Linked DNA regions of Homo sapiens: region 2 is linked to region 1. Evidence: fine-mapped expression QTL. A gene starts in region 1. The other region holds a variant in brackets. All regions are shown on one strand. Distances are from middle to middle. Region 1 holds the start of CLYBL (citramalyl-CoA lyase). Region 2 overlaps CLYBL (citramalyl-CoA lyase).

Region 1 (5,378 bases):
GAATCGCTTGAACCCGGGAGTCAGAGGTTGCAGTGGGCAGAAATTGCGCCACTGAACTCCAGCCTGGTGACAGAGCAAGACTCTGTCTCAAAAAAAAAAAAAAAAAAAAAAAAAACAAAGACAGGTCAATTGACATTGTCCAGCCTGAGGAACAGAAAGAAAATGGAACAGTCTCAAAGACCTGTGGGGTTCCATCAACTACACCAACATATACGCAATGGGAGCCTCCGAAAGAGAAGAGAGAGATAAGAGAGTAGACTTTTTTGAGAGAACAATAGCCAAAAACTTCCCAAATTTGATGTATACACATCCAAGAAACTCAATAAACTTCCAAGAGGATAAACTCAAACAGATCTACACACATCATAATAAAACCACCGAAAGACCAAGACAAAGAGAAAATCAAGCAAAAAAAAAAAAAAAAAAAAAAAAAAAAAGACTCATCACTTACATAGAACCCTAATAACATTAACGTCTGAATTCTCATTAGAATAATGGAGGCAAAAAGACAGTGCGATAATACGCTTTAAAATGCTCAAAGGAAAAAAAATGCCAATCAAGAATCCTATATTCAGCGGGTAGACATGTCGAGAACAGACCAGTGTGCTAAGGCGGGTGAGGAGCACTGAGTTAACCCCCAGCGTACTGGCGTGGGGACTGTGTGCGCTCACTGGACCCGCTACTGAACAGGTCACAGACGCTGGCCCCCTCAAAAGGCGCCAGAAAAGGACCCTTCTGGACCAGCCTGGATACACTGCCTGAGCTGCTCCTCTAGGGCGAGGGGTGACTCCCCTGTGCCAGGGGCAGCGGAGGAAATGGGAAAGTGGGATGCATAAGACTAGGTGGGTCCTCCCATAGGACATGGGTGACTGAAGAGTCACAGTGCAAGAAGACGTAAGAAGTTCAGACCCAGGCCGGGCACGGTGGCTCACGCCTTTAATCCCAACACTTTGGGAGGCCGAGGCAGGTGGATCACCCGAGGTCAGGAGCTCCAGACCAGCCTGGCCAACATGGTGAAACCTCGTCTCTATTAAAAATACAAAAATTAGCCGGGCATGGTGGCGGACGCCCTGTAATCCCAACTACTCCGGAGGCTGCGGCAGGAGAATCACTTGAATCCGGGAGGCGGAGGTTGCAGTCAGCTGAGATGGCGCCATTGCACTCCAGCCTGGGCGACAAAAGCGAAACTCCATCTCGGAAAAAAAAAAAAAAAAAAAAAAAAAGAAGTTCCAGACCACCAGGCCGGCCATGGTGGCTCACGCCTGTAATCCCAGCACTTTGGGAGGCTGATCCGGGTGGACCCCCTTGAGGTCAGGAGTTCGAGAACAGCCTGGCCAACATGGCGAAACTCTGTCTCTACTAAAAATACAAAAATTAGCCAGGGGTGGTGGTGCACACCTGTAATGCCAGCCACTCAGGAGGCTGAGGCATGAGAATCGCTTGAACCCAGGAGGTGGAGGTTGCAGTAAGCCGAGATTACACCACTGTACTACAGCCTAGGTGACAGACCGAGACTCTGTCTCAAAAAATAAAAATAAATAAATAAAGAAGTTCCAGACCAGGAGCCATACACTTAGTGTTTGAACCAAACTCTCTCATTACTGGTCATAGGGCTTTGAGAATCCTTAACCTTTCTGACCCTGTTTTTTCATCTTTATAAACATGACACCCAACTTCTTCACATGGTGGTCAAGGGAACCAAATGAGACCATGTATGTGCACGTACCTAGGCGATGGGCAAGTGCTAGACCAGCGGTTCTCAAAGTGTGGTCCAAAGACACCTGAGGGGGTCCCTGAGACCCGTTGAGAGGGTCTGCTTGGTCCTCCCTTTCCCAACTAATATCTGCATCTGCATGAGCCCAGAATTTCTTTCAAATATTTCCTTCAAAACAGCTGATATGAGACTCCAGCTGTCCTTTATTAAACCAAAGAAATTTTCAAAAATATAAAAACCATGAGCCAATCTTCTCACTTTTTTTTTGAGAAGTTATGCATTAAAGTGTTATTTGTATTAAAAGTTAATGGGTTTGTTATTAAGTGAATATTTTTTAAATTTCTGGTTTAATTCCTCATGCACAAAAATCAATAGATATAAGCAAAAGCTTTGGGGGGTCCTCAAATTATTTTTAGACGTGTAAACGGGTCCTGAGACCAAACCGTTTGGGAACCGCTGTGTTAAACGAACCGCAGGTGTTCTTCACCAGGCAAGCCGCCTCTCAAAGACTGGCGCGTTCACGTTTGCCATTTGGGGGAGGCAGGCAGTTTTGTTTCCTGGGGCTGAGTCCAGGTAATTCGACCTAAGGTGTGTACCCATTTTCCGGGTGCAACGAGGGCCCTCCCAAAGGGAGGCGCGGGCGGCAGCGACCTTGGACGAGGTCGAGCCAGCGCGTGGGAGGCGCATGGTGCTTCCGTCCGGCTGGGTTCCCGTGAGGGCTTGGGGAGGCCGCGCCCGGCCCGCGGGGCTGCAACAGGAGCCGACCCGCGGCGAGCCGGGCCGGGAAGGCGGGGAACGGGGACCTGCACTCACAGCCTCAGCAGCGCCGCCGCCGCAGCTCCGCGCGCCGCCCTCCGCAGCAGACGTAGCGCCATCTTCCCGACGCGCGCGCCCCGCCCTTTGCCTTTAGCCACGCCCACCCCACATTCCACGCCCCCACGGCGACACCGACCCCCCCCCCGTCCCAGGCCCCGCCTCGCTCTGTCTTCGCCCCGCCCCGTCCCGCCAGCCACACCCCGCCAGCCACGCCCTCCTTCCTCCCAGCACCCGCTCCGCCCCGCGGCGAGTCCCGAGGTCAACTGCCCTCCCGGCCAGGGCTTAGGACCTTCGTCCCCGCTGTCATGGGGGACAGAGCAGAGGATCTGAATGGTTGGGGCCTCTTTGAGGGGCCTCTCTGGTGACCGAATCCAACTCTCTGAGCTTCTGAGTTTTTGAGGCAACTGTTGACAGACTGCGTTTTCCCAGCCAGAAGAGCCAACATTTCTAGGGATTTCTTCGCAGCTTTTGTTGTTAAAATACCGCCTAATACTTTGTGAGCCCCATCATGTGCATATCTTGGTTAGCAATTAATCTAGAGTGGTCAAAGTGCAGGAAGGCTGCATCCTGGAACACACATGCCTGCAATAGGTCAGAGCAGCTGTTGGCACTCTCTGGGCAGGGAAACTGACAGCAGCTCTTTACTCTGCCCCCTGCAGCCGTTCTGCAGCGGTGAGAACGCCGAGGCGTTAAAACAGGCTGGGCCCTGCCCCTGCCTCTTCTTTCACCTTCCCTGATCCAGCCGGCCTCCACCTGCCGACCTTCACCTACCCGGGCCCATGTTACCCCTTAACCATGTCTTTTCCTTGGCACTCGGCATGTTTCTTTTTCAGCTGTGACTCCGTTCCATTCATGCTCTAGACTTAAACCTGAAACCGTTTCTCAGAACCTTCCAGTGGAAGCTGACTTGTGCTCTTGGATGCAAAAAGTGGCCGTTTAAACAAACAAAAGCCTTTTCAGCCAGAGGGGGTTCCAAGATTTGGAAAAGTCCAGGTGACTGGGAACATGGATGCTAAACTTCTGCTGAGCCTAAGAATTATTGTTATATTCGATACCAACAGGGGAGACTGCTCAACCCCTTGGTGCCCTCCCCCAGCTCCCACGCCTGCTCCACCTCAGGCCTCGCCTGTCTACTCCAATTTGGTCACTTTCTTGTCACCACCTTAGTCCCAGCCAGTGCCCGGTCCAGCCATACTGAAGCCTGAGGCAAAGGCAATTTCAGTAACACCAATCCTGTCTTTAATTAAAATTTTGATATTTTGTTCATAATGGGATTTTTCCATTATCTTGGTTTTTAGTTTAGAATATTACTTTTTTTTTTTTTTTGAGACAGTCTTGCTCTGTCGCCCAGGCTGTAGTGCAGTGGCACGATCTCAGCTCACACACTGTAACCTCCACCTCCTAGGCTTGAGTGATTCTCACCCCTCAGCCTCCTGAGTAGCTGGGACTACAGGCAAGTGCCACCACTTCCAACTAATTGTTTTGTATTTTTAGTAGAGATAGGGTTTCACCATGTTGGCTAGGCTGGTCTCGAACTCGTGGCCTCAAGTGATCCATCCGCGTCAGCCTCCCAAAGTGCTGGGCTTACAGGCATGAGCCACCATGCCAGGCCAATATTACTTATCTTTTTTTTTTTTTTTTTTTCTGAGATGGAGTCTCGCTCTGTCGCCCAGGCTGGAGTGCAGTAATTACTGAGACTTCTCCTTAAATTTTGCATCCCAGGCTGGGGCTGCACTCACCTCACTCAAGTCTGATTCTGGACATCATCATCCTTTACCTGGATTATTTCAAAGCCTCCTTGCTCCCATTCTTCCCTCCTACAATCACCCGTTTGCCATAAAACCTGGCTGACCTTTTAAAAGCATGACGCAGCTCCTAGTTCCAGAGTTGACTTGCTGTGTGACTTTGGTCAAGTTTCTTAAGCTCTCTGTTTCCTCATCTATAAAATGGGGGTATAAATACCTCATCACCTCATAGGCTTGTTATAATGATAGACTGAGTTTACATATACATAGAGAGAGACTGCACACTTAAAATCTAAGCAAGTTCTCAGTAGTGTTAACTATTCCTCATTATTATTGTCATTGCATCGCTTCCCTTCTTAAAACCCTTTAGTGGCTTTAGAATAAAATCCGAGTTCTTCCCCATGACCCTTAAAGCCTCACACGGTCTGGCCCCTGCCAGCCTCTCCAATTTATCTCCAGCCCCACTCATCTTCTGTCTGTGTTTTCTAAGTCCACGAGGCTCTCTCCCACCGTGGGGCCTTCACACATGCCGTTCCTCATCCCCAGAATGCTCATGGCTACACCTGCTCATCCTCCAGGACCTTCAGCCTACGTGCCACCTCCTCACAGGGGCCTGTGCTAATAACCTAAAGATCCCCAACGGCGCCCCCACATCTATTTCACTGTCACAGTGCCTGGTCATCTCCACCACAATGTCGATATATGAGTTTGTGAATTTATTAGGTTCATGCCAAAGTAATTGCGGTTTTTGCCATTCAAAGTAATGGCAAGAACAATTTCATCTTATATGTATTGAATACCTGCCAGGTAGGATTCACTGAGCCAGGTGCTGGGAGCACAGCAGTGACAAGACATACAAGGTCCCTGCTCTCAAAAAACTTACAGAATTGAAAATAATGGCAAAACCCACAATTACTTTTGCACCGACCTAATACTTCTTTATTGTGCCTTTCCCCAGCAGTTCTCAGAGGGTGGGGTGGGATGGGATGACTAACCATCTATCAGGTGGGCTTTGGGATGCAGTATTGTTGTTTAGGGGGCAGGGCTAGTGATGTGCTGGGTAGCCACCTTGGGAGAAAGGCTCTTGGTGTCTTGACTTAGAA
Region 2 (5,378 bases), 270 kb before region 1:
TGATTTTTTGTATTTTTGGTAGAGACGGGGTTTTACTATGTTGGCAAGGCTGGTCTCAAACTCCTGACCTTGTGATCTGCCCACCTCGGCCTCTCAAAGTGCTGGGATTACAGGTGTGAACCACTGCACCCGGCCTATTAAAAACACTCTTATCTTCTAATACCAAACCAGCCATTTGCCACTAAAAAAAAAAAAAAAAAAAAAAGTGAAATAGAATATGATATGATTTCAATACTTTGTAGCAATTCATTACTTTGCTTTAAATGTTTAAAATTTCGCAATTTTGTGTTAATCCATCCAATCTTAAAGTCATCATTGGCAGACTCAGATTTTCTAAGAACTGGACTTTTAAAAATCAAAATTATGGCCGATCTTTCTGAAAATGTTAAATGAGCAGGGAAATAAAGAGAAAAGTGCAATTACTAAGAATCTCTAAAACAGAGTTATGTCCCTTTATCTTTCATTTTCACTACAAACCTCTCAGCTCTGATTTTCGTGTTCCTGCTCATAAATCCAGAGGGAAGGCTGTGGGTCGTGGGCTGGATGGGTGTGGGAGGATACACTGTTGTCTAATAGTGGAATCAACCCTTTCAGTTGACAAAGACAACAACCACGTCTTTAGATGGTTTATTTGATCTGCGTGAAAGAGTGGCAGTGGGATTTCTGGCACTTGAATAAGCGGAAACAATATTTTTGGCTAGAGAAACTTCTCCTGAGTTCTCTCAGGGAGGCTTCTAGAAGGCCATCTGGACCAAGCAATATTTCTTTTGTAAAGCCTTGCATTTGGAAACAGAAATGAAAGGTGTGCGAGCAGCAATCAGACACCTATGAAAATGATGGGCTTTCAATATTTTGGGAGGAGGGATGTATTACTGTTTGTAAAGTTTCTAGATGAAGAGACTTACATAAGGAAAAAAACTCTTACTTTCCTTTTTCTTTCTTTATTAAGAGATGTTTCCAGTTTATATTCCAGCAGAAGATGTGCTTACTAATGTGAACTTATCAGCTTGCACTGTTTTTCTCTCCTGAGTGAAATGAGAATGTTGGTTGCGTGATGCTTACAGTTGTTAGGCCAGGTAGTGATCTTGTTTCTGACATTTGTAATTGTTAATTGAACCTAGAATTTAAAGATGAATACTTCCCCTTCCTCAGTCTTTAGCCAACTTGTGAAGCTATAACGAAGGAGAAATATTGAAAAAGCCAAACAAAATCCTTCCAAAACCAAACAAAGCACGTACAGCCATGATATGAATCAAAGAGAATGTCTGGAAAACTGAAAATGAAGCAAAGCCATATTTGTAGCCAGATACTGCAAAATATGAATATTCTAGCAGAGTATCTTTAAAATTTTGACACACGTAATATATTGTGCTATTCCTTCGCATTCTTCTGTTAGAGTCTCCATTTGGAAAGAAATAGTAAATTCCTATATTAACATTTCCTGTGATTAGTGACTGTTTTAAAAAAGCAACTGACTGTTTCCTTTAGCTGTCATTTTTGCCTAAGAGTGATGAATATGGAAAGATAAAAACTTTAGCACTAAGCTCATAATATAGATTTGAGGAAATACACGTTATCATACATACTTGAATGTTTATATGTTGTATAAACATGTATGCTATATGTGTTTATATAAAATTATTTCTATTGATATCAATATTAGATGATTATTTGCTTGAGATGTTTTCAAGTATCCAATTTTTACAGTATATAAAATTCTTTATTGATAAAAAAGAACTGTTGAAATCCTATTACTTTAATAAGCATATTAAATTCAGTTCTGAATGAAGAATTTTCAAATATTAATGGAATCACCATTATTATAAAAAAAGACATAAAAATGGAATTAACTTTTAAGAAAATCCTTTATAAATTTAAAACAAATCATGTGGAAATGATTTATCCTGCCTAAAGCATTTTACCAAATAATTTGAAACTAAAATAATTAATGGTATGCACGTTGTATCTCAAAAAACATTTTTCTGGAAGGATGGAAGAAAGTCAGTTTGATTAATATTGTGGATGGAAACCTTACAGCTGATGTCAGCTAAATTAAAAACATTTTAGTTTCTGGGAATTAACATAGGAGCAGAGATTATTTGGAATCTTTAAACTTTTTCCAACAGATTTTAATAAGATAAGATAACCTAGAGTCCCCAGTGTCAGTCTCTAGCCCTAACTCTGATTACTGGACTACGGTGCCAAGCAAAATTTTTTAGCCTGAAAATATCTTTCAGTTTCCTGAAACAAAGCAGCCACAAGAATCGCTGCCTGCCAAACAGGGACAGATGATATGAGCTGATTGTTATTTGTTTTAATGTAAAGTGATTGTCAACCAACATTATACCAAGGACACCAAACTTTATTTCCTTAGGACTTTTAATTAAAATAAACATCCCCAAAATTCTGTAATACCAAAGTCTGAACTCCAATAATTTATCTGCTCATGGTCTAAGTAGTCCCATGAATTTTGCCATTTGGACAGGACAGGAAGAAAGGGTAGAGCTTTTATGTTTGAATAATAGTAATGATTATTACTATAGAAAACACAAATGGCTCAGCACTAACTGTGAACTTCAGCTATACCTTTATGTTTGGCTAACTGTGAACTTCAGCTATACCTTTATGTTTGGGCAGGATATAATTTAAGATGAGAGCAGGAAGAAGTGCAGAAAAGCAAAGATACATAATTTTTCCTTCTTGGGTCATTTCTACTTAAAAGCATTACTTGAATGAAATTTTCATCAGAGGGAGGAAAAAGGTCTTTTGGAAATTTGTGACTGTCACACTAGGACACAAACCATCAGTTTCCTATCTTTGAGAGAGTCATCTGTGCTTTGGACAAAATATCTGAGGGTTCACGTGTTCATCAGTGATTCACATTTGACATAAAACAGACTAGATGTTTGTTGGAAGCAATACTTTATATAATTGTGCAACCTATTTACACAAAATCTTTACAAACAGAACCCACATTATTTAAACCCCAAGATCCCCTCAAGATCCAGAGTCACCTACCTGCAGATCCAATTTCTGTGACCGGCCAGTTTATAGGCAAAGTGAAAGAAACATGCTAACTGGATAAAATAACCATATGTCCCTACTGGAAGCCCCATTACTTGAATCATTTCAACCTTGCTGGACAAAACACCAGGAGAATTTGCTATAGGAAACAAACCTCCACAAATGGGGCAGGGAAGAAATTACCTAATAGTTAGTCTCCCCTCTGCTCTAATTTCTATGGTTCTGTGTTAAGAAAAGCCATCCTGCCACACTGTTGTGAGAGCTTATGCCCCAACGAGAGGGCATTTCTTATTTAAAAAAAAAAAA[AG/G]TCCAGAATTGAACATTTAAGTTGCCATCATCAAAAGGTGTGAAAACTTTGGGAGCGTTTTCCCAGGGAACAACGCTTTTCAAGATACAATGGAAAAGGGCCATTTTCCTCATTCAAAAACTTAAATGCTGAGCAAAGCAAGTGTTTCTGGTTTGACTTCTGTTTGTTGGCTACTGAAATTCAGGGTAAACTCTCCCACACCCCTATCTGCTTACAATGCCAACTGCCCTCCTTTGATGCTACCCAATGTGAAACCCAGCTGGGATGGGTCATAGACACAGTGCTGGCCCAGACTGGAACTCTGCTCTCTCGTTTCAATGGTCCACATGCTGCCTCAGTTTCCTATTTCACCAGGAGGTGTTTATGACATGCCTGTCCTCAGCTGGCACAAGGCTTGTAGCAGAGGTATAGAGCATTCGGTGTGGGTATGCGTGGGCAGGTATGCAAGGGAAGGGGATGGATGGACATGTGAATGAGAGTCCGTGGCTCTTCGTTCTAGGTGAATAGATTTACTCATGGGAATCTTGATCTGGGGTTAAGACACAAAAATGGACACTAAACACAAGGTCAACTTAAAATATTGTTTCTATGAAATGCATTACTTTTCTGATGGCCACTGTTGATGGGAAATGGAAAGATGCTATTTATCATGAAATTGGTGTAAGTCCAAATTGGGTATTTCCAACGTAATATATTCTGCCTTTGGAGATTAAGTGTGAGTTTGTACAAAGATGAGCCTGCTGGTGTGTGAGTGTGCCCATGTGTGCATGGGTTGAATGTGGACATCCTTAGGGAATGACCCATTTAATATTGTTGCCCACTTTGGCAAGTCCTGGGATTTTCAGGTGTCCTTGCTGCCAGTGAAAAGTGCGAGGGACATGTCTCACATGGATGTCACAGGTTCAGGGTCACCACTAAAAACCAGTTTTTCTTTTTCTTTTTTTTTTTTTTTTGCAGGGGGGAATGTTTAATATTCAGAACTGTAATAAATTTTCAATATTCTTTCTCCTAAGTAATTTTGCATTATAGGTATCAAAACTTTACTCCTTCTGGAAGTCACAGGCTGAGTTTAGAGATTACCTCTAGGATAGATTTATAAATGTAACTTTCCCTCCTATCCTCTTAAAAAGAGGCAAACGGTATTATTGCAAATAACCTTTAAGATAATTAACTGACAATGCTGCAACTAGCATAAAATCTTCCTTCAGGCGACACCTAATTTAAGTGTTACTGGCACAAAGTGGAGACAGATTGTGCATTACCACTGCAATATTTACATAGCAGAAACCCACAGAGCAGGAAACGCGAGGCTCAATGATGCACTAAATTAGGAACAACCGTACTCCAGTGTTAATTTGCTTTCCATTCCATCCAAATCTCAGGTCCAGAAATTGGTACAAACACATATACAACCTCCCACTCTTAAATGACTAAACCGGAGGAGATTTCTGTACTTTTTTCCCCCCAAATTAAAATAACTTGCAATTTATTTCTTTCCTCCACAAGAACCATTTAGTCAAACTGTGTTTATTTCATTACAACTTGTTCTCACTTTGATCTAGGATTATTTTCATATGAATGCTGCATAGAAGTCTGTAGAGAAAAACTAAACAGACTTCTATTTTCTCTAAGGCTGCCAATATATTTTATGAAAAGAATAAAATGAGGGACTTGAGAGCCAGTTAGTGAAGTATTTAGGAACATGGGCAGGGCAAATCTATCTCAAGCAATTTTCTCACTGGTGAATGTTGTGTTCCCTCCCTTTCCCCCCTCTCCAGATACGATGAGTTTTCTTAAACCATTCACACAACATATTTGTTTCATTCTTCCCGACAATATTTTCAATACTGCTCTCACCCAAGGCATTAACAAAACATTTACCTTTCCTAATTGTTGATGTTCTTTAAAGGCAGCAATCAGTTCTTCAGCCCACTTAATTTTTTCAGGGGAAGGAGAAAACTGCTCCTGGACCACGGCAATTTGGTTAGGGTGAATCACCTGCTTACCTACAAGAATATTAATAACATCGGAACCACGAAACAACGAA

What was found. PIP is the estimated chance that this variant, and not a neighbour inherited with it, causes the effect. A credible set is the group of variants that fine-mapping cannot tell apart.
Region 2: its variant is the best candidate, but not a certain one, in a credible set for the expression of CLYBL in whole blood (INTERVAL, PIP 0.79).

What each region holds. Positions count from the first base shown.
Region 1 is chr13:99,603,907-99,609,284 of GRCh38, reverse strand. CLYBL (citramalyl-CoA lyase) reads right to left here and starts at 2,595. Exons shown (of 9, transcript NM_206808.5): 1 at 2,528-2,595. The coding sequence starts at 2,589. LOC105370332 (a long non-coding RNA gene) reads left to right here and starts at 3,436. Exons shown (of 3, transcript XR_931674.3): 1 at 3,436-3,523. RefSeq lists a silencer at 2,255-2,814 and enhancers at 2,536-2,830, 2,753-3,732.
Region 2 is chr13:99,870,897-99,876,274 of GRCh38, reverse strand. CLYBL (citramalyl-CoA lyase) reads right to left here. Exons shown (of 9, transcript NM_206808.5): 7 at 5,213-5,337. All of the region lies in intron 1 of CLYBL-AS3 (CLYBL antisense RNA 3), which reads left to right. Among named protein-coding and RNA genes, the nearest start is that of CLYBL-AS3, 84 kb to the left of the region's middle. The variant AG/G (reference allele first, on the strand shown) is at 3,331.